Homo sapiens: one gene and its partners. The protein of the gene in region 1 interacts with the protein of each later gene in a biochemical or structural test. Each region holds a gene or a part of one and is shown in the gene's direction. Other genes may lie near its edges.

Region 1 (3,638 bases):
GTCCTTCAATGCCTCCATCTCAGTGGCCAGCTTCCAGGAGCTGTCAGCGTGTGTCTTCAGCTGGATCGAGGAGCACTGTAAGCCTCAGGTATGGGGCAACAATAGGCACAGGGTCTGCGGTTTTCTCTACCATCAAGCAAAGTGGCCCAAGCCATCAGCTGTTGAGAAAAGCGTGGCAGCTGCTTTTAGATCTTAAGGGCGTTTCTACAGCTTTGAGGGCCCTGGTATTTTCCCTTTTCTTTGCTGTCTAACCCACATCTTCATGTTACGGTTTCATTCGGCAAGTGTGACGTGAGCTCAATGTGAAGTCCAGCTCTTGGCTTTTGTCTAGCCCATGTTATCGCTGCCCCTGTATGGAAGCCCCAGGCATCTGCAGCAGAATTGGAAACGCAAATTCTGGGACCCTACCTTTAGGCCCCCTAAAGTAGTTGCCCCAAGAGCTTTTTAAAAATTTATTTATAATGGAGATGTGCTAATGGTATTGCACTAAGTCTTCTAATTGAAGTCTGGTTGCTTTTTCTGAGGTTTTAAACTTGTGTCTGAGATTTCTTGTTTGTTTCTCAACATTTTTTTTTTTGAGACGGGAGTCTCGTTCTGTCGCCCAGGCTGGAGTGCAGTGGCACAATCTCGGCTCACTGCAACCTCCGCCTCCCGGGTTCACGCCATTCTCCTGCCTCAGCCTCCCGAGTAGCTGGGACTACAGGCGTGTGCCACCATACCTGGCCAATTTTTTGTATTTTTTAGTAAGACGGGGTTTCACCGTGTTAGCCAGGATGGTCTCGATCTCCTGACCTTGTGATCCACCCGCCTCGGCCTCCCAAAGTGCTGGGATTACAGGCATGAGCCACTGTGCCTGGCCTCGTTTCCCAACATTTTTATTGTGAAACACATTAAACATATTGCGATGTTGAGAGGAGTTCACAGTGAACACTCGTATACCCGCTCCCTAAATTTTACCGAAACATTTTACTATATTTCCATCTCTCCATCTTGCTTCAGGAGCACCTCAAATTAAACTGCAGACATCAGTACTTCCTGGGGGCTTTTTTTTTTTTTTTTTGAGACGGAGTCTCACTCTGTCACCAAGGCTGGAGTGCAGTGGTGTGATGTCAGCTCACTGCAACTTCCACCTCCTGGGTTCAGGCGATTCTCATACCTCAGCCTCCTGTGTAGCTGGGATTACAGGCATGTGCCACCACACCTAATTTTTGTATTTTTAGTAGAGACGGGGTTTCACTATGTTGGCCAGGCTGGTCTTGAAATTCAGGTGATCCACCCGCCTTGGCCTCCCGAAGTGCTGGGATTATAGGCGTGAGCCACCACACCTGGCCCCCGGGGGGCTATTTTTAAAGCACTTTTCTAAAGTACATGGCTGATCTAGGCAGGCATCTTGGAAACTACTCTGCGTTGACTTGGGCATTGTCTATTTCTTCCTCTGCTGCCCTCGCCAGACCCTGCGGGAGATTGTGATTGGCGTCCTGCACCAATTGAAAAACCAGCTTTACTGACCGGTTCTTGGAAACCTGGAGAACAGCCAACAAGAGGCCCTTGAATCTCTACGTGGCCACTGAACTGCTGGGCCCGGGAGACTGGACTACAACACCTCACACTGGTCAGCTGGTTTCTACTTGGTGTTTGGTTTTTCCCAGCCCCATTTTATCTTCAGCGGAGCCGCGGTGTTTGTTTTGTGAAAGCTTCTGATTAATTTATTATATTGACGATAAAACTCAAACCTACCCAGCCTTCCCCCCACTCCATGGAAGTCCTTGGGATGGGCGTCTGCTCTGGACACCCCAAAGAGCTCCTGCCCTCTCAGCCCTTTATTCAAGCCTCAGATTTCTGCTCATGATCTACATAGATTTGGAAACTGTTTTCCTCTGTTTTGGTCTCTTGGGCAACATTTTTGGCCCAAGTTTGGGCAACATTTGGCCCAAGTTTGGGCATTTTGGCAGTAGCTGTATGGGAGAAAAAGAGTAAGAGGAAATATTCCCACAGCCATGAAGGGTGAAAGGGCACCTTGTGCCTAGACTAGGGCTGCCTGGTCAGTCCCAGGTGAGGCCAAGGGCTTTCTGGCCATCTCAGGGAGGGGCCACCAGGTTCCTCCCCTCACCCCATATTCCATCACCTTCCTCCTCTGCTCTGGGTGGTAAGGGAAGCCCTCCCGGTTCCCACAGGCTATGATGCTGCATGGCAGAGGCAGGTATAACACAGCACTACATATTGGAAATTTTTTATTTTTCTAAATACCAATGCAGTTTTGCTACGGTTACAATTTTGAAATATTAACTGAGCCTCAAAATCACCCTTTCTGTCAAGCATATCTTGGCCTCTCCCATGTCTCAGTGTTGCCTGCATTTCTCCCAGGACTTGGGGGTGGGGTGAAAAGCGTACAAAAGATACTTAAAAGGGCTCCTGGGGTACACAAGCCCAGCAGGTCCTGAGTGAAGCCGTGGGCCCTCCAAATGCTCGTTTTATAGCAACCTCTCTCTACCCTAGTTCTCCAAATTCACTTCTGCCTTCCTCAGGTTTGATATCTGGCAGGTTTGACTATCCAGAGGAAATTAAATATTTTTATATAAAATTAAATTATAATAAATATTGCCAAATGCTTTCCTTTAGCATTGTTCCAAGTCTAAATGTTAACCTCAAGCTACTGCAATTTAGACAATGAAATGGGCTGGGTCTACCCCCAGCCACCAGCCCTCATCCTCTCTACCCAGTGCTCTGGTTTATGCTTGTCTCCTGACTGCTCTGCTTAAAGGTGAAAGTAGCAGGAACAACAACAAAAGCCAACCAAAAACAAGGTAGCCAGTGCAAGACATCTCACTCTTCTGACATCCTGCAGTCCCCACCAGTCCTGACCGTGGGCCCCTCAGGGGTCTGGGAGTGTGACGTTGTAATCTTCATCCGTCTCTATCCCAACTTCCTCCTGTGAGACAGGGAGACAAGTGAATGAGATGTCACCAGGATAAGACCACAGGGAAGCAAAGAAGGAAGAGAGCTCCACTTACAAAGAACTGCTTCTTGCTCTTGGGGTATCCTTCAAGTATTGCATCAGACAGCTCTGTAGCCTGACAAGAAATAAAACCACCCGTTTTCAGATGGGCAGCACTGGGCACTGCCTGTCAGTTTATGATATTGTGTAGCGGCTGATCTGGTGCCTGCCATTTTCAAAGGCACCTCCAGGGCCTGTCTCGGAGCTCCCACACACTTACCATCCTCTTCCTCTTCCTCCACTCCTTACAGTACTTCTGCCTCTCTCTGTACACCTAGAAGGAAAAAGCAAGTTCCTCTAACTCCTCAGAACCACAGCAGCCCTCTGGGGCTCAGCCCTGATGTTCACTCTGGACCTGCACAGCGGTCCTACAGCCTTCCAGCTCACCTGCTCTTTCTCTTCTGGAGTCACATGATTGGTAGCTGCTTTAATGTTCTTCAATCTCTCTCTGTAGCCAGCGCATTCCTTCTTTAACTCCTGGATTTCTTTCTGCATCTCTGGTGTGGTCAGGGCACTAGATAATTCCTTGAGCTCTGAAACCACATCCGCCTGGGGTCACTTGCTACCCCTGAGGAAGGAGTTCTGTCTTTCCCAGTGGGTGCTCCCTGAGGTGTTCCACCTTGCTCTGGATCTATCATCTCAC
Region 2 (7,034 bases), on another chromosome or scaffold:
CCCCCCCCCACTTGGAGCCCACCCGTATCCCCCTCTTGCCCACACCCCACTCAGAACCCACCCTTAGGCCCCTCTCGCCCCCACCCCACTCAGAGCCCACCCTTAGCCCCTCTTGCCCACACCCCACTTGGAGCCCAGCCTTAGGCACCCCCCTCACCCCCATCCCACTCAGAGCCCACCCATATCTCCCTCTTGCCCACACACCACTCAGAGCCCACCCTTAGGCCCCTCTCGCCCCCACCCCACTCGGAGCCCAGCCTTAGGCCCCTCTCGCCCCATTACACTCTTCACCCCACTCCTAGGCTCCACCTGTTGACCTTCCAACAAACCAAGCTTGTCCCGGACCCAGTGACCTCACGTTCCCCCTCATCTCCAACTCACCCTCTTGAACTTCTGCCACCCTGGGGCCCCTCCCATGCCAGGCCTCCTCCCCTAGCACCGTACCCCTTTTCCACCCTGGCACTCGCTCTGGGCACCCCCTTTCTGCACCTCCAGCAGATCAGGGAAGGGGAGCCACCAGGGGGTGGGGAGGGGGACTTCCTGAGCTAAGCCTGGGGCTGGGGAGGGGAGGGGGCTCCTTCCTGGGGTCCCTGTTCACATCCACAGTCCCCTGCTCTCTCCCACGCAAGCTCATTCCACCCAAGACGGTTGCTGCTTCCCCTAATCGAGACAGAAACCCTCCCAGTTTCACAATCTTCTGTGGAAGGGACCCCCACCCTCTGCCCGCCAGTCCCCATGTCCCCACCCGCCAAGGCTGGGGACAGGCCACTCTCCTCTCAGCTGTTTCCCAGCCATAGCCCTGGCCCTAACTGCTGTTGCCCTGTGTGTCTGAATTACAGATTTCTTTACCAACTCCCGCCTCCCACAGCCGCCCATGCCTTCAAACTTCCCAGAGCCCCCCAGCTTCAGCCCCGTGGTTGACTCCCTCTTCAGCAGTGGGACCCTGGGCCCAGAGGTGCCCCCGGCTTCCTCGGCCATGACCCACCTCTCTGGACACAGCCGTCTGCAGGTGAGCTCACCCCACCCCGTCCAGCCCTGTGTAGCTCACTTGAGAGCTGTTCCTGCCCTGTTCATGTCCAGGAGGTATCAGACACTCCCTGAGTGCCCAGTCTTCTGCTTGGAGATTGGAGGGAAAGAAAGACCCCATCTCTGCCCTCTGGGAGGGACCCCGTGAAGCAGAACTGGACAAAACGGTTGTGGGAGAAAGCTAAGGGCATGGAGACCATGGAATGGGCTCCACCAAGGGCCAGTTGCTTGTGGAAGGCTTCCTGGAGAAGGGGAGTTTCTGGGCCTTAGAGAATAGGTCAGCTTTGGACAGAAGGGACTGGCTGACCTCAAGCCAGATGGGAGAACAGCAGGAACAAAAGCTTCGAGGCAGAAAGCTGAGCGTGGATGTTTAGGAAACAGTGAATCTACCATTTTGGTTCATCAATTCCCCATATGCAATTCTTTTTTTTTTTTTTCTTTGAGACAGAGTCTCACTCTGTCGCCTAGGCTCGAGTGCAGTGGCATGATCTCGGCTCACTGTAACCTCCGCCTCCCGTGTTCAAGCGATTTCCGGCTTATTTTTGTATTTTTAGTAGAGACAGGGTTTCACCATGTTGCCCAGGCTGGTCTCAAACTCCTGACCTCAGTAGTCCGCCCGCCTCGGCCTCCCAAGGTGGTGGGATTACAGGTGTGAGCCACCACACCTGGCCCCCAGGTGCAGTTCAGAAGTTGCTTCCTGCTGCTTGGTTATAGGCCTTTTCCCTCCATCATCAGACTTTTCAGGTGCTAATTCTAATCGGTTGCTGAGGGGTGTCTCTCCTCCATCAGACAGTGAGCTCCTTACTGAAAGGGTTATGTTTTGCTCACCACTGCATTCTCTATACCTAATACAGCTCAGGCACATAACAGCACTCAGTGAATGGTTGTCCAATGAGTGAGTCAGTGACTGAATGAATGAGCAAGTGTGCAGATGAATGGGCGTGCTGGTGAATGGATAGATGCATCTTAGACTGCGGTGGAGGCACACGTGGGTTGGTGGATATATGGGTAGGTGAGTGGTTGGGTGGATGGGTGGGCTGGTGGATGGATACATAGATGAATAGTTTAATGGATTAGTGAATGGGTTCATTGGTGGTTAAGTGGCTGGAAATGTATAGATGGTGGATGGATGGAAGGATTATGGATGGGTTGGTGGATGAATGATGGAAGTATAGATGGTTGGATGGATTAGTTAATATGTTAATATCTGGTAGGCTGGTGGAGAGAGTGGTAGATGAGCTGGTTCATAGATTGATAAATAGGTAGGTGAATGGATGGAAGACGGATGGATGGAGAGATTGGTGGATGAAGTAGTAGATGGACAATTGATGAATGGATGGGTGGGTTGGTTAGTGGATGGATTGGTGAAGTTAGTGGATGGATGATGAAGGAATGGTAGGTTGGTTGGTGGATGGATCAGTGGACAAGTTAGTGGATGGATGGATGATGAATGGATGGGTGAGTTGGTTGGTGGATGGATTGGTGGACAAGTTAGTGGATGGATGGATGAATAAGTTATTTGGGAGACAAATGGACGGGCAGGAAGATTGATGCTCCGCTGTTCCTGCTTTTTGCATAAATGTACTCGACTCCCTCCTCTCATTGTAATTTCCCTGCTGCATGTATATGTTCGCACACCTGTGTGTGTTGGAAGGCAGGGCTCATTTCTCCTATCTCTCCCCAGGGCCCCAGTCTAGAGTTTGGCCAGGGCAAGGCAGGGCAGGGGAGGCCCAGATGGCTGCCAGGGGCAGCTCTCTCCCCTGCTCTCTGAGTGTCTGTCTGTCCCCCCAACCAGGCTCGGAACAGCTGCCCTGGCCCCTTGGACTCCAGCGCCTTCCTGAGTTCTGATTTCCTCCTTCCTGAAGACCCCAAGCCCCGGCTCCCACCCCCTCCTGTACCCCCACCTCTGCTGCATTACCCTCCCCCTGCCAAGGTGCCAGGCCTGGAGCCCTGCCCCCCACCTCCCTTCCCTCCCATGGCACCACCCACTGCTTTGCTGCAGGAAGAGCCTCTCTTCTCTCCCAGGTTTCCCTTCCCCACCGTCCCTCCTGCCCCAGGAGTGTCTCCGCTGCCTGCTCCTGCAGCCTTCCCACCCACCCCACAGTCTGTCCCCAGCCCAGCCCCCACCCCCTTCCCCATAGAGCTTCTACCCTTGGGGTATTCGGAGCCTGCCTTTGGGCCTTGCTTCTCCATGCCCAGAGGCAAGCCCCCCGCCCCATCCCCTAGGGGACAGAAAGCCAGCCCCCCTACCTTAGCCCCTGCCACTGCCAGTCCCCCCACCACTGCGGGGAGCAACAACCCCTGCCTCACACAGCTGCTCACAGCAGGTGAGGGCCAGCAACGGGGAGAGGAAAGCCTGGGGAGGGAGGCCAGGGGGTGGGGAGGACAGGGGGTTTTGGGAGCAGAAGATGAAGGTGAAGGGGCAGGTCCAGTTCAAGGGACAGAGTGGCAAGGAATGAGGGATGTGGGGCCTGTACCTAAAAGGGGTGTGGACTCTTGGGAGGGGCAGGATGGGGTCTTGATAGATGCCGGGGGTGGGCCAGCCCCAGTAGCCTCACGGTTCTGCCCGTGCACAGCTAAGCCGGAGCAAGCCCTGGAGCCACCACTTGTATCCAGCACCCTCCTCCGGTCCCCAGGGTCCCCGGTAAGATCTCGGGCACTGGGCGGTGGGGCTGTGCCCACGGCCTTCAACCCGACTCTCCGCCCTTCTCCACCCCAGCAGGAGACAGTCCCTGAATTCCCCTGCACATTCCTTCCCCCGACCCCGGCCCCTACACCGCCCCGGCCACCTCCAGGCCCGGCCACATTGGCCCCTTCCAGGCCCCTGCTTGTCCCCAAAGCGGAGCGGCTCTCACCCCCAGCGCCCAGCGGTAAAGAGAGGGGTTGCAGGGATTGGGGGAATCTAGGGGATGAGGGGAAGAGGAGGAAGAAGAAGGGGACTGGGTCTGGGGCCAGATGAGAGGAAGGGGGCAATGGGGACCCTTTCCCCTGGGTCGGTCTTTCTGTGGGTCTGTCTGTCCCTACCACAGGCAGTGAACGGCGGCTGTCAGGGGACCTCAGCTCCATGCCAGGCCCTGGGACTCTGAGCGTCCGTGTCTCTCCCCCGCAACCCATCCTCAGCCGGGGCCGTCCAGACAGCAACAAGGTGGGCACCATCCCCCACCCCAAGATCGGTTTGCTACCCCCAGGCCCTCCTGGGCTCCTTCCTAGGCTCACCCAACTCTCTGCTCCCCGAGACCGAGAACCGGCGTATCACACACATCTCCGCGGAGCAGAAGCGGCGCTTCAACATCAAGCTGGGGTTTGACACCCTTCATGGGCTCGTGAGCACACTCAGTGCCCAGCCCAGCCTCAAGGTGAGCCCCGGGCCCAGGCTGGCACCCCCAAAACCACAGGGCCCCTTTCTGGACCCCCCCCACCCAAAACTCAATTGCAGGGGAGTGCTCCAGACACTCTTGCCTCCTCCCATCCCAGTGCCTCAGTGGGTCCCAGGGTACAGCCTCTAGCACCTGCCTGAGCCCCCCTGGTGGCGTCTGCAGGTGAGCAAAGCTACCACGCTGCAGAAGACAGCTGAGTACATCCTTATGCTACAGCAGGAGCGTGCGGGCTTGCAGGAGGAGGCCCAGCAGCTGCGGGATGAGATTGAGGAGCTCAATGCCGCCATTAAGTAGGCAGGGTCCAGGCGGGTGCTGGGACCAGGGGGCCATGCCGCCTTACCCCCAGCCCCTGACCCCTGCCCTGCCCCCAGCCTGTGCCAGCAGCAGCTGCCCGCCACAGGGGTACCCATCACACACCAGCGTTTTGACCAGATGCGAGACATGTTTGATGACTACGTCCGAACCCGTACGCTGCACAACTGGAAGTTCTGGGTGGTATCCTCCCTCAAGCCCATGGCTGGGGGGCTGCAGGGGCTGTGGCAGGGTGAGACCAGGCTGGGCCTGGGATGGAGGCCTAGCTCTCCAGGCCGGGCAGGCTCAGAGCTGCTCCCAGGTGACAGGCTCTGGCTCTGCCCCCTGCTTCCATGCCCTGGCCATCTTGGCCAGCAAAATTGCCCAGGGATGGGGGGCTGGGAGCAGAGAGGGAAACTGAGGGAGGAGTCCTTGGGTAAGGGGAGCCTTGGCCCTGACCTCAGGAAGCCCCGAGGGCAGTTTGGGAGAATCTGAACTCTGGAGTGAGGACTACAGAAGACTTGGAATCCACTCCCTGATCTGGCTCAGGGGTCAAGTTCTTGACTGAGCCCAGGCAGGGAGCTCAGGGATGGGGGATGGTTCAGCACACAGTAAGGGCCGTGGAGGGGCAAGGAGGAGGGGACTGAGAGGCAGAGAGCTGGGAAGGTCTTGGCAGGACAGAAGTAGGGACTGCAAGCCAGGTGCGGTGGCTCACGCCTGTCATCCCAGCACTTTGGGAGGCCGAGGCAGGTGGATCACTTGAGGCCAGGAGTTCAAGACCAGACTGGCCAACATGGCAAAACCCCATCTCTACTAAAAATACAAAAATTAGCCAAGCGTGGTGGCATGTGCCTGTAATCCCAACTACTCGGGAGGCTGAGGCAGGAGAACAGCTTGAACCTGGGAGGTGGAGGTTGCAGTGAGCCAAGATTGTGCCACTGCATTCCAGCCTGGGCAGCAGAGTGAGACTCTGTCAAAAAAAAAAAAAAAAAAAGTCCGAGCACAGTGGCTCACGCCTGTAATTCCAGCACTTTAGGAGGCTGAGGTGGGTGGATCACGAGGTCAGGAGTTCGAGACCAGCCTGACCAACATAGCGAAACCCCGTCTCTACTAAAAATACAAAAATTAGCCAGGTGTGGTGGCGCACACCTGTAATCCCAGCTACTCAGGAGGCTGAGGCAGGAGAATTGCTTGAACCTGGGAGGCAGAAGTTGCAGTGAGCTGAGATCGTGCCACTGCACTTCAGCCTGGGTGACAGAGCGAGACTCCGTCTCAAAAAAAAAAAAAGAAGAAGTAGGGGCTGCAACATGAGTCATTGGGGTTCAACGTTAGACAGTGTCCAGGCCCTTTCTTCCCCTGGTTTGAACTGGGCATCAGGGCTCCACGTGGTGTGGGGGGACCAGCTGGACCACAGGCAGCTCCTTGACCTGGGCCCAGTTCAGCATCCTCATCCGGCCTCTGTTTGAGTCCTTCAACGGGATGGTGTCCACGGCAAGTGTGCACACCCTCCGCCAGACCTCACTGGCCTGGCTGGACCAGTACTGCTCTCTGCCCGCTCTCCGGCCAAGTACGTGAGCCATCTCCCTGCCTGCTAGAGGGACCCAGCCTCGGGGGTGGAGGGAGCATTCCACCCTGCTTAGATCCCACATCCAGCTTGCCATCAACACAGCCTAGGGTTGTGGCCACCCCGCATCCCCCAGATGGTCCTCTGGCCACCAGACGCCTGTAGACAGAGGTTCTAGGAGGGGGTGACAGTCTTGCCAACTAATACCTCCCCCTATCCCTTTGGTTCCACATCCAAGGGTAGGGCCCTGACCCCAGGAAGTGTCTGTCTCTCTCTCTCTGTCTCCCACCCAGCTGTCCTGAACTCCCTACGCCAGCTGGGCACATCTACCAGTATCCTGACCGACCCGGGCCGCATCCCTGAGCAAGCCACACGGGCAGTCACAGAGGGCACCCTTGGCAAACCTTTATAGTCCTGGCCAGACCCTGCTGCTCACTCAGCTGCCCTGGGGGCTGCTTTCCCTGGGCACGGGCTCCAGGGATCATCTCTGGGCACTCCCTTCCTGCCCCAGGCCCTGGCTCTGCCCTTCCCTGGGGGGTGGAGCAGGGTCCAGGTTTCACACTTGCCACCTCCTGGAGGTCAAGAAGAGCAGAGTCCCCGTCCCTGCTCTGCCACTGTGCTCCAGCACCGTGACCTTGGGTGACTCGTCCGCTGTCTTTGGACCGCTGTGTTTCAATCTGCAAAATGGGGATGGGGAAGGTTCAATCAGCAGATGACCCCCAGGCCTTGGCAGCTGTGACATTGGGGGCCTAGGCTGGCAACTCCGGGGGCTCAAC
Region 3 (6,852 bases), about 40 Mb from region 1:
AATACAAAAATTAGCCGGGCGTGGTGGTGCGTGCTTGTAATCCCAGCTACTCCGGAGGCTGAGGCAGGAGAATCACTTGAACCTGGGAGGCAGAAGTTGCAGTGAGCCAAGATCACACCACTGCACTCCAGCCTGGGCAACAGAGGGAGACTCTATCTCAAAAAAGAAAAAAAGAAAAAGAAACTTAAGGAACACCTTTTTAGAGATTGCTGGCCTTTGGATAATTCCCCAAACCTGCTAACCTTTCTGCTGAAACCAAAAGGACTTATTTCTCTTTCTCTTGAGTGAGTACATTTGCCAGCTTCTATCCTGGCTCCACCCCCTTGGAACAGGAAGCTGGGGCTAAAATATTAAACAGCCCTCCTATTCATTCCCCTCTTCTTTCATGCCCTCACATCGCCATTTATAGGTATCTCCCACCCCCACTGTCCATTCCTCAACTGGGGAAAGCTTGGTTGATGAGGTATTGTTTTTGGCCATTTTCAGGCTCCTGTAGGCAACAATAGGTCCAGAAACAGCCTCCCCCACCCTTTTTTTTTTTTTTTTTTTTTTTTTTTGGAGACGGAGTCTCTCTCTGTGGCCCAGGCTGGAGTGCAGTGGTGTCATCTCAGCTCACTGCAACCTCCACCTCCCGGGTTCAAGTGACTCTCCTGCCTTAACCACCCCCAGTAGCTGGGATTACAGGCGCCTGCCACCACGCCCAGCTAATTTTCTTTTTTCTTCCTTTTTTTTTTTTTTTTTTTAGTAGAGACAGGGTTTCACCACACCACGTTGGCCAGGATTGTCTCGAACTCCGGACCTCAAGTGATCCATGCACCTCGGCCTCCCAAAGTGCTGGGATTACAGGCGTGAGCCACCGCTCCTGGCCTGCAGCCTCCCTTCTAAACCCTTGTTTTTGTCTAACATCCCCTGGCTGCTGTCCCCACATGACCCAAATAAACAGATGATCATGTGAAGCCAGTAAGGCTGTTTGTTTTAAATAGCAAACATCTCCACTAAGCTCTGGAGCAGATGGAGTATTGGGGGCAATGGAGAGGCTGGCATTCAAATCTGTGTTCACTCTACTCTTACCTTCTGCTTCCTCACCCCTGAAGCGAACAGTGTCTTAAGAACACTGCCTTTCAGAGAGGTGCCTACTTACTGGTATAGAGTTGGCCAGTGACAAAGAAGAGTGTAAAAAATTAAACCTCAGCCTTCAGCAGAAACTCCAGGGCTGTATGAGTGCATGGCCACCTGAGGAGAGCAGGAAGGGACAGCTGGATGGAGCACTGTGCACCACGGTGCTGACCCCACACAAAATAAGAACTTGCCCAAAAGCATTAACTCAGGTCACAATCATGTATAGATGCAGCTCCACTTAGGACGGGTTTCACCAGCCATAATCCCATCCTAAATTGAGCGCATGCTAGATTATCACTTTTACAACCATTGCAAACTTGGAAAGTCCTGTGTCAAACCATCACAAGTCAGGGACTGTCTGTATACTGTTGAGAGTCCCTGTTCCACTGCCGCCTATATATTATATTGCCTTTGAATTTTCCATTTTCTCTAGTTGTGCAGAATGGGCCAGGCCCAACCATACTGGTGGCAAGTGGCAGACACCTTAAAGGAAGCAATGTTGGAGCCAGCACAGATCTGGCCCTCCCAGCAAAGGGGCACTCATCCCATGGAGAAGAACTGGGCTGTTCCGTTCTAATCCGCCTTTGCTCCAGCTTCATCATAAGCAAAATCAGTGGTACCTACCTGGACATTTGTGTGTGTGGCGACTTCTGCATGCTCAGCTCTAGATGCTGGGGCATTAAATGTGAAAAGATCAGAGGCCTCTGTAGACTAGTACTGGCAAACAGCCCCCTTCCTCTGGTTCACGAAGTTCTTGATTTCCAGGATCTGTGCAGATTTTTCCCCCCTAGGATGCATGACGATGCCCTCAAAGGAAAGGAGTAAAGCCAGCAAACATTTTGCCTGCTTTCTATGTTTCTAGCTGTCTTCCAACCAGTCCCTAAAATAGGAACGCTCCGAGGGTGCCATGTGATGGAATGTATTGGCAGGGCGGCCTGCCTCTCAGCCTCATGAAGGTTTGCTTTCTGGTTGTGTGTGATGTTGAAGCCGCGGCTGAGGAGTTCTAAACCCACTGGCACTGACTGCCCCCCCACTTCTTGGACCGGTTAGCAAAGAATGGAGCCTGGGGCCAGAACTGAGGGGTACTCCCCCTGCACTGGCACAGCACAATCGACATGCTCCGGGACGCTCCAAATAAGCTTTCAGCCGCCTGGGGTCTATCGCTGCCGCTGTACCAGTGGGGTTCGTGTGGCTTCCACCGAGGAAGCAGAACAGCGGAGTTGGGTCTCAGGTGAAGATTTTTGTTGCCCCAATCACAGTGTGTTAAGTGGTCAGGGTTGCTATTCCTCCCTGGCATTTTTCTAATTGGGGGCCCTCCTCCAGAACTGGCTTCAGAGTCGTCCCTGGGGTCAGGGAAGAGTGCCCCCGCTTCGGGAGAGAGGAGCAGGTGGAATACGGAACGACCTTAGGCGAGTCCTTGGCCGTCACGGCCTCAGTTTCCTTATGTGTGAAGTGAGAGGATTTAAGGGCAGCCGGCCTCAAAGAGCTAACTCTCCGATTGCACCCGAGCTCCCCTAAACACTCGAGCCCGGAAGACGCGGGCGGGCGGGCGGGCGACGGGGGGTCCCTCCCTCTGGGGAGCGCGGTTCCAGCCGGCCGCAGCGGACCCCGCCCCCGCGCCCCGCCCACCGCCGGTCGCCAGGCGCGGGGAGGGCCGGGCTTCCGCCCTCCACGTTGTTGTTCCCGATTTGGGCCACGCCCCCCGGTCTGGGCTGCGGGCGCTTCGTGTTCCCCGCCCTGGCCCCGGCCCCAGAGGAAAGGGTGGCCCATGGGGTGGCACAGTCCGTATCTCCACCCACATCGAATACGCGTGGACAAAGACTGGAGTTCAGGGGAAGGAAAGATAAAGGCCTGGTTTTAAATGGAAGGTGGTGAAAAGGAATGGAGAGGCCAGGGCACGACTGCGGGATTCCCCTTACGGCATCCCACCCTGGGTTCGCCCAGTGGCCCCATCCGCACCCGCGAATGTGACCTGCAGACACTGGCCCTTTAAACCGAAGGCTGGCGGCGCGGGGTGTCCATGTGGAGCTGCTCCATGCCGTGTTGTCCTGCCCGCCCATTGGCTCGCGGCCCGGTGACGTCCCCTAATAGGATGCGAACGCACTGCGGGGGGAGGAACGGAGACAAAACGCGGAGCCGGACTGCCGCTCCGCTCCCTCCGCTGGTTCTCTTGACAGTCTCCAGTCGCCGGCAGCTCCGCCCAGGGGCGGATCCCGGGGGAATTGCGACAGCCCGGCGATTGCGGGATTTAGGTCGCGAGTGGGTGGAGCGTGGAGACCCAGGGTCAGGCCAGTCTCTGCCATTCCCAAGGTTTCCCTGACCCGGAATATCCTGGTTGGAACTCTGTTAAATCTTGAATTGTTCACCCTACCCTCCCTCCAGCAGGACAGATTTCGTCGTGAACGACCCAAACGCACCGCCCCGGCCCAACTTGTGGCTTGCAGCCGGGGCGGGGCCAGCAGGAAAGCGGAACCGCGGCGCGCACACCCCGCTCGGACCTCTCCCTCCCTGCCCGGGCCACGTGTGCGCGCGCCGGATCCGGGGGGCGGGGCCAGCAGCGCAGGACCCGCCCCTCCCTTCGCGAGACGCCGCGGCCCTGCGGGCGGGGGCTCCGGTCCGGGCTTTGGCTGTGGCCCCGGTGTAGTAGCGGGGGCGGCGGCCGGGGGCAGCGCGGCTCCTTCCCTTGTTGTGTGTGTCGGTGCCTCCTCGCCATCTTGTTGCAAAGCCCTTTCTTGTCGGCGGGACTCCCGGGGGCCGCGGGGCGGGAGGCATCGGAAGGGAGGTAGAGAGGGAGGGGAAGAAGGGAGGCAGTGCCGCCTTTTTTTTTTTTTTGCATCCCATTTTTTTAAATTTGCAATTTTATATTTTGCAAATATTTTGAGAGACATTGATTTTTCTCCCCGTGCTCCCCCGTTCTTCCCTGCGGAGTGCGCTGCGCCGCCCAGCCCTGTCGCCCCCCGGAGGTGATCCCTCCCTCCTGCCTGCCCGCCAGCCTGACCTGTGCCCGGCTCGCGGGCCGCAGCCTCGGCCCCGGCGCGCCCCCGGCAGCTCTCGGCGCGATGAGCATAGAGACGCTACTGGAGGCGGCCCGCTTCCTGGAATGGCAAGCGCAGCAACAACAGAGAGCACGTGGTGAGCGGCCGGGCTGGGCCCCTGGGGCACTGGGGAAGGGGAAGCGAGTGACCCCGGTCCCCGAACCCACGCGAAACCGCGGACAGGGCCCCCTCCCGGGCGGCCTGCGGAGCCTGGCAGCGCACGGCTCCCCGCGAGAGCCGCCGCCTGGGGAGGGGTGATGTGGGCAGTGAAATTAATTAATGAATTCATTAACATGCTGCGAGGGACCTGGCTCCTGCGGGCGCCACCCCGGCTGCGTGGCACCCCTGTGCCCCTTCTGTGGTGGGCTGCTTTTGCGTGGGCCAGCGGAGCCCTCGGTGGCACTGAGGATGTGTGAGCCGGGGGGTGGGGTGAGGAATGGTGTTGCGTGGGGGTGGCAGGCTCGCGTGTGCGTGCGTGTGTGCACGGGGGATGTGTGATGTGAGCCTCGGGAAGAGCAGATGAACGGACGTGTACACGGGCGTGTGTATAGCACACGAGTGGGCGTGTGTGTAACGGAGTGGGGGTGGGGACTACTCTACGCGGAGCAGCTCTTCGGCTTCCCTGGCCCCGTGGGGAGGGTGCGGGGGGCGCTCCCGGCAGATCTACGCGCCGCTTGGGGCGGAGGCGGCCTTTGCAGAATGAAATGACATCGCGTGTCTTATGATCCTGGCCAGCCCCGCCTGACCCCGCCTCCCAGAGCTGGGCTGGGCTGCGCGTCCGGGGTTTGGGTGAAAGCCGGGCTAATTGGGCGTTTGCGAAATGGCCCGCGGGTCGCTGGGGGTCAGCCCCCGGGCCCCCCTCGCTGCGCCCCGCTTTAGCCAGTGTGGAATGTGGCGTGTCTGCGCGTTCCAAACCCGCTCTCGCCTGGAATGTTGCGTGTGCCTGCGTTCCGAGCCCGTTGGTTACACCGGGTGGTGACGTGGACGGGCTCCGCCCCCGACCACGTGCACCGGGGACACTCCTGCTGGGGACGGCGCGGCCCGGCCCCTCCTCACCGCCTCGCGCTCGGCCGGGGGCGGGGCCTGGGCGGGGCTGGCAAGGGGCCTTGCGCTGGGTTGGGCCTGGGCCCGGGCCCCGGCCTCTGGGCACCTCCCAGGGAGAGCCTTTGCCCTGCGAGGGAGGAGCCGAGCTCACCTGTCGGCTCTGGCCCCTAACCTCCTGTGTTTGATCCCGAGGCAAGGGAAACCCTCAGAATCGCAGGGCGACGAGACATTTAGAGCTCACATTTTTCCACTGACCCCCAAAACGTTCCAACTATGCCCCCTGGCATCAGCCGGGGCCACGCTGGAATGAGCCAGGATGAGAAAGGGCAAACTTCGGCGCTCCCTCGAAAGGGAAGAGACTAATGACTCCTATCTTCACGCGCCCTGTTGGTGGTCCCTGGCTTCAGGGTGCTGCAGAGGGGCTGGCGGGAAAGACCTCCCTTTTCCAGGGTGCTGCCAGGGCCTCGGCTCTGGAACGGTGTGTGTGCAGGACCCGGGGACTCCTGTGCCCTCCCCGCCCCCCAGAATCCCCCGGCAGGGTTGGTTGTGTTGGAGAGTGCTTCGCCCTCCTTTCCTTTCTCTCTGCCTATTGTTGCTTCAATGATGAGTCATGCAGGAGGTAGTAGTGTGTTGTGTGCGCGCGCGCCGCCGTGTGCCGCCGCCGCGGCGGGCGGGGGTGGGGGAAGGGGGGAGCGGCAGCGGGCAAGGGGCGGGGGAGCTGCGGGGCCGGCGGCCTAGTCGGGGCGACCGGCCTCTCAAGGTCAAGAGTCACTGGAGATATGTGAGGCTCAGATGCCTGGGTTTTGCAGAAGTGATGGGCGGGGACATCGCCCACACTCCCCGGCTGTTGCCTTGATGGTCCAGAGCAGGGTCTGGCAGTGGAGAGTGCCCCTGGTGACCAAGAATGTCCTACGTTTGGGCACAGGGGTCAGGGGAAGACCGTGCACAAGGTTCGGAGAGATTAAGTCACCTGCTGCCGCCATCAACACGTTGCAGTTCGAGTACGCACTGTGTTTAGGCCGAGTTCAGCGGCCTGGTCACGACTTCTGTGTGCCGGTCAGAGGTCTTTGTAGATGAGTGGGTGCGGAAAGCTAGATCTACTCAAAAACTCATGTACGGGTGTCCGGAACCGATCCCAGCAGTTTCTCCTCCAGAATTCATTTTCTTCTCCCTCTTGAGGTTCTGTCCTCTGAGCTGGGGCAGGACGAATGGAAGGAAGGGCATGGCAGGTGAACCTGCTGACCAGAACGCTTTCCCGGGACCTAGGACCAGCTCTGGACAGGGATCCTCTTGTCCTTTCTCCCTTTCAACCGCAAGCATGGGTTTCTGACCTAGACCAGCCAGTTTGCTCACATGAGGACCCCGCAGATGTGTGTGCCTGTGAGAGAGAGGGGAAAGGGCAGAGCTATCCTGGTGCCCAGACGGAAGGCCTGGCCTGGTCATTTCTAGTGTTCATAGAGGTGGCTCAGATGCAACTCTTCTGCCTTGTTTCGAGGGAGTTGGTTGGAGTGTCCAGAGGCTCCTGACCAACTCTCCAAGGCTTACCCTGGGCCTGCCTTAGGCACCAAGCCTCCTGTTTAGCGTGCAGATGGGAGAATTCCTGTGGCTGCTGGGGCCCACCAGTGTGGACTCCTCCACCCCTAGCCCTGTGCCT

The links. Proteins that work in one complex are often made in the same cells at the same time.
Region 2: the proteins of MLX (region 1) and MLXIPL form a complex in vitro, tested with the Homo sapiens proteins (one study listed by BioGRID).
Region 3: the proteins of MLX (region 1) and MNT form a complex in vitro, tested with the Homo sapiens proteins (one study listed by BioGRID).

The regions. Positions count from the first base shown.
Region 1 is NC_000017.11:42,570,096-42,573,733, forward strand, and holds the end of MLX (max-like protein X), read left to right. Parts: coding exon 1-88; intron 89-1,451; coding exon 1,452-1,508; 3' UTR 1,509-2,872; coding exon of another isoform or gene 2,873-2,929; 3' UTR 2,930-3,011; coding exon of another isoform or gene 3,012-3,071; 3' UTR 3,072-3,108; downstream 3,109-3,638. Other genes in the region: PSMC3IP (homologous-pairing protein 2 homolog), read right to left, coding at 2,873-2,929, 3,012-3,071, 3,216-3,269, 3,383-3,528. UniProt on the Homo sapiens protein: Transcription regulator. Forms a sequence-specific DNA-binding protein complex with MAD1, MAD4, MNT, WBSCR14 and MLXIP which recognizes the core sequence 5'-CACGTG-3'. The TCFL4-MAD1, TCFL4-MAD4, TCFL4-WBSCR14 complexes are transcriptional repressors.
Region 2 is NC_000007.14:73,593,501-73,600,534, reverse strand, and holds part of MLXIPL (carbohydrate-responsive element-binding protein), read left to right. Parts: intron 1-839; coding exon 840-1,009; intron 1,010-2,821; coding exon 2,822-3,353; intron 3,354-3,602; coding exon 3,603-3,670; intron 3,671-3,745; coding exon 3,746-3,896; intron 3,897-4,055; coding exon 4,056-4,171; intron 4,172-4,262; coding exon 4,263-4,382; intron 4,383-4,565; coding exon 4,566-4,693; intron 4,694-4,774; coding exon 4,775-4,898; intron 4,899-6,131; coding exon 6,132-6,261; intron 6,262-6,551; coding exon 6,552-6,670; 3' UTR 6,671-7,034. UniProt on the Homo sapiens protein: Binds DNA as a heterodimer with MLX/TCFL4 and activates transcription. Binds to the canonical E box sequence 5'-CACGTG-3'. Plays a role in transcriptional activation of glycolytic target genes. Involved in glucose-responsive gene regulation.
Region 3 is NC_000017.11:2,398,039-2,404,890, reverse strand, and holds the start of MNT (max-binding protein MNT), read left to right. Parts: upstream 1-3,830; 5' UTR 3,831-4,178; coding exon 4,179-4,251; intron 4,252-5,288; exon of another isoform or gene 5,289-5,676; intron 5,677-5,898; exon of another isoform or gene 5,899-6,102; coding exon of another isoform or gene 6,103-6,199; intron 6,200-6,852. UniProt on the Homo sapiens protein: Binds DNA as a heterodimer with MAX and represses transcription. Binds to the canonical E box sequence 5'-CACGTG-3' and, with higher affinity, to 5'-CACGCG-3'.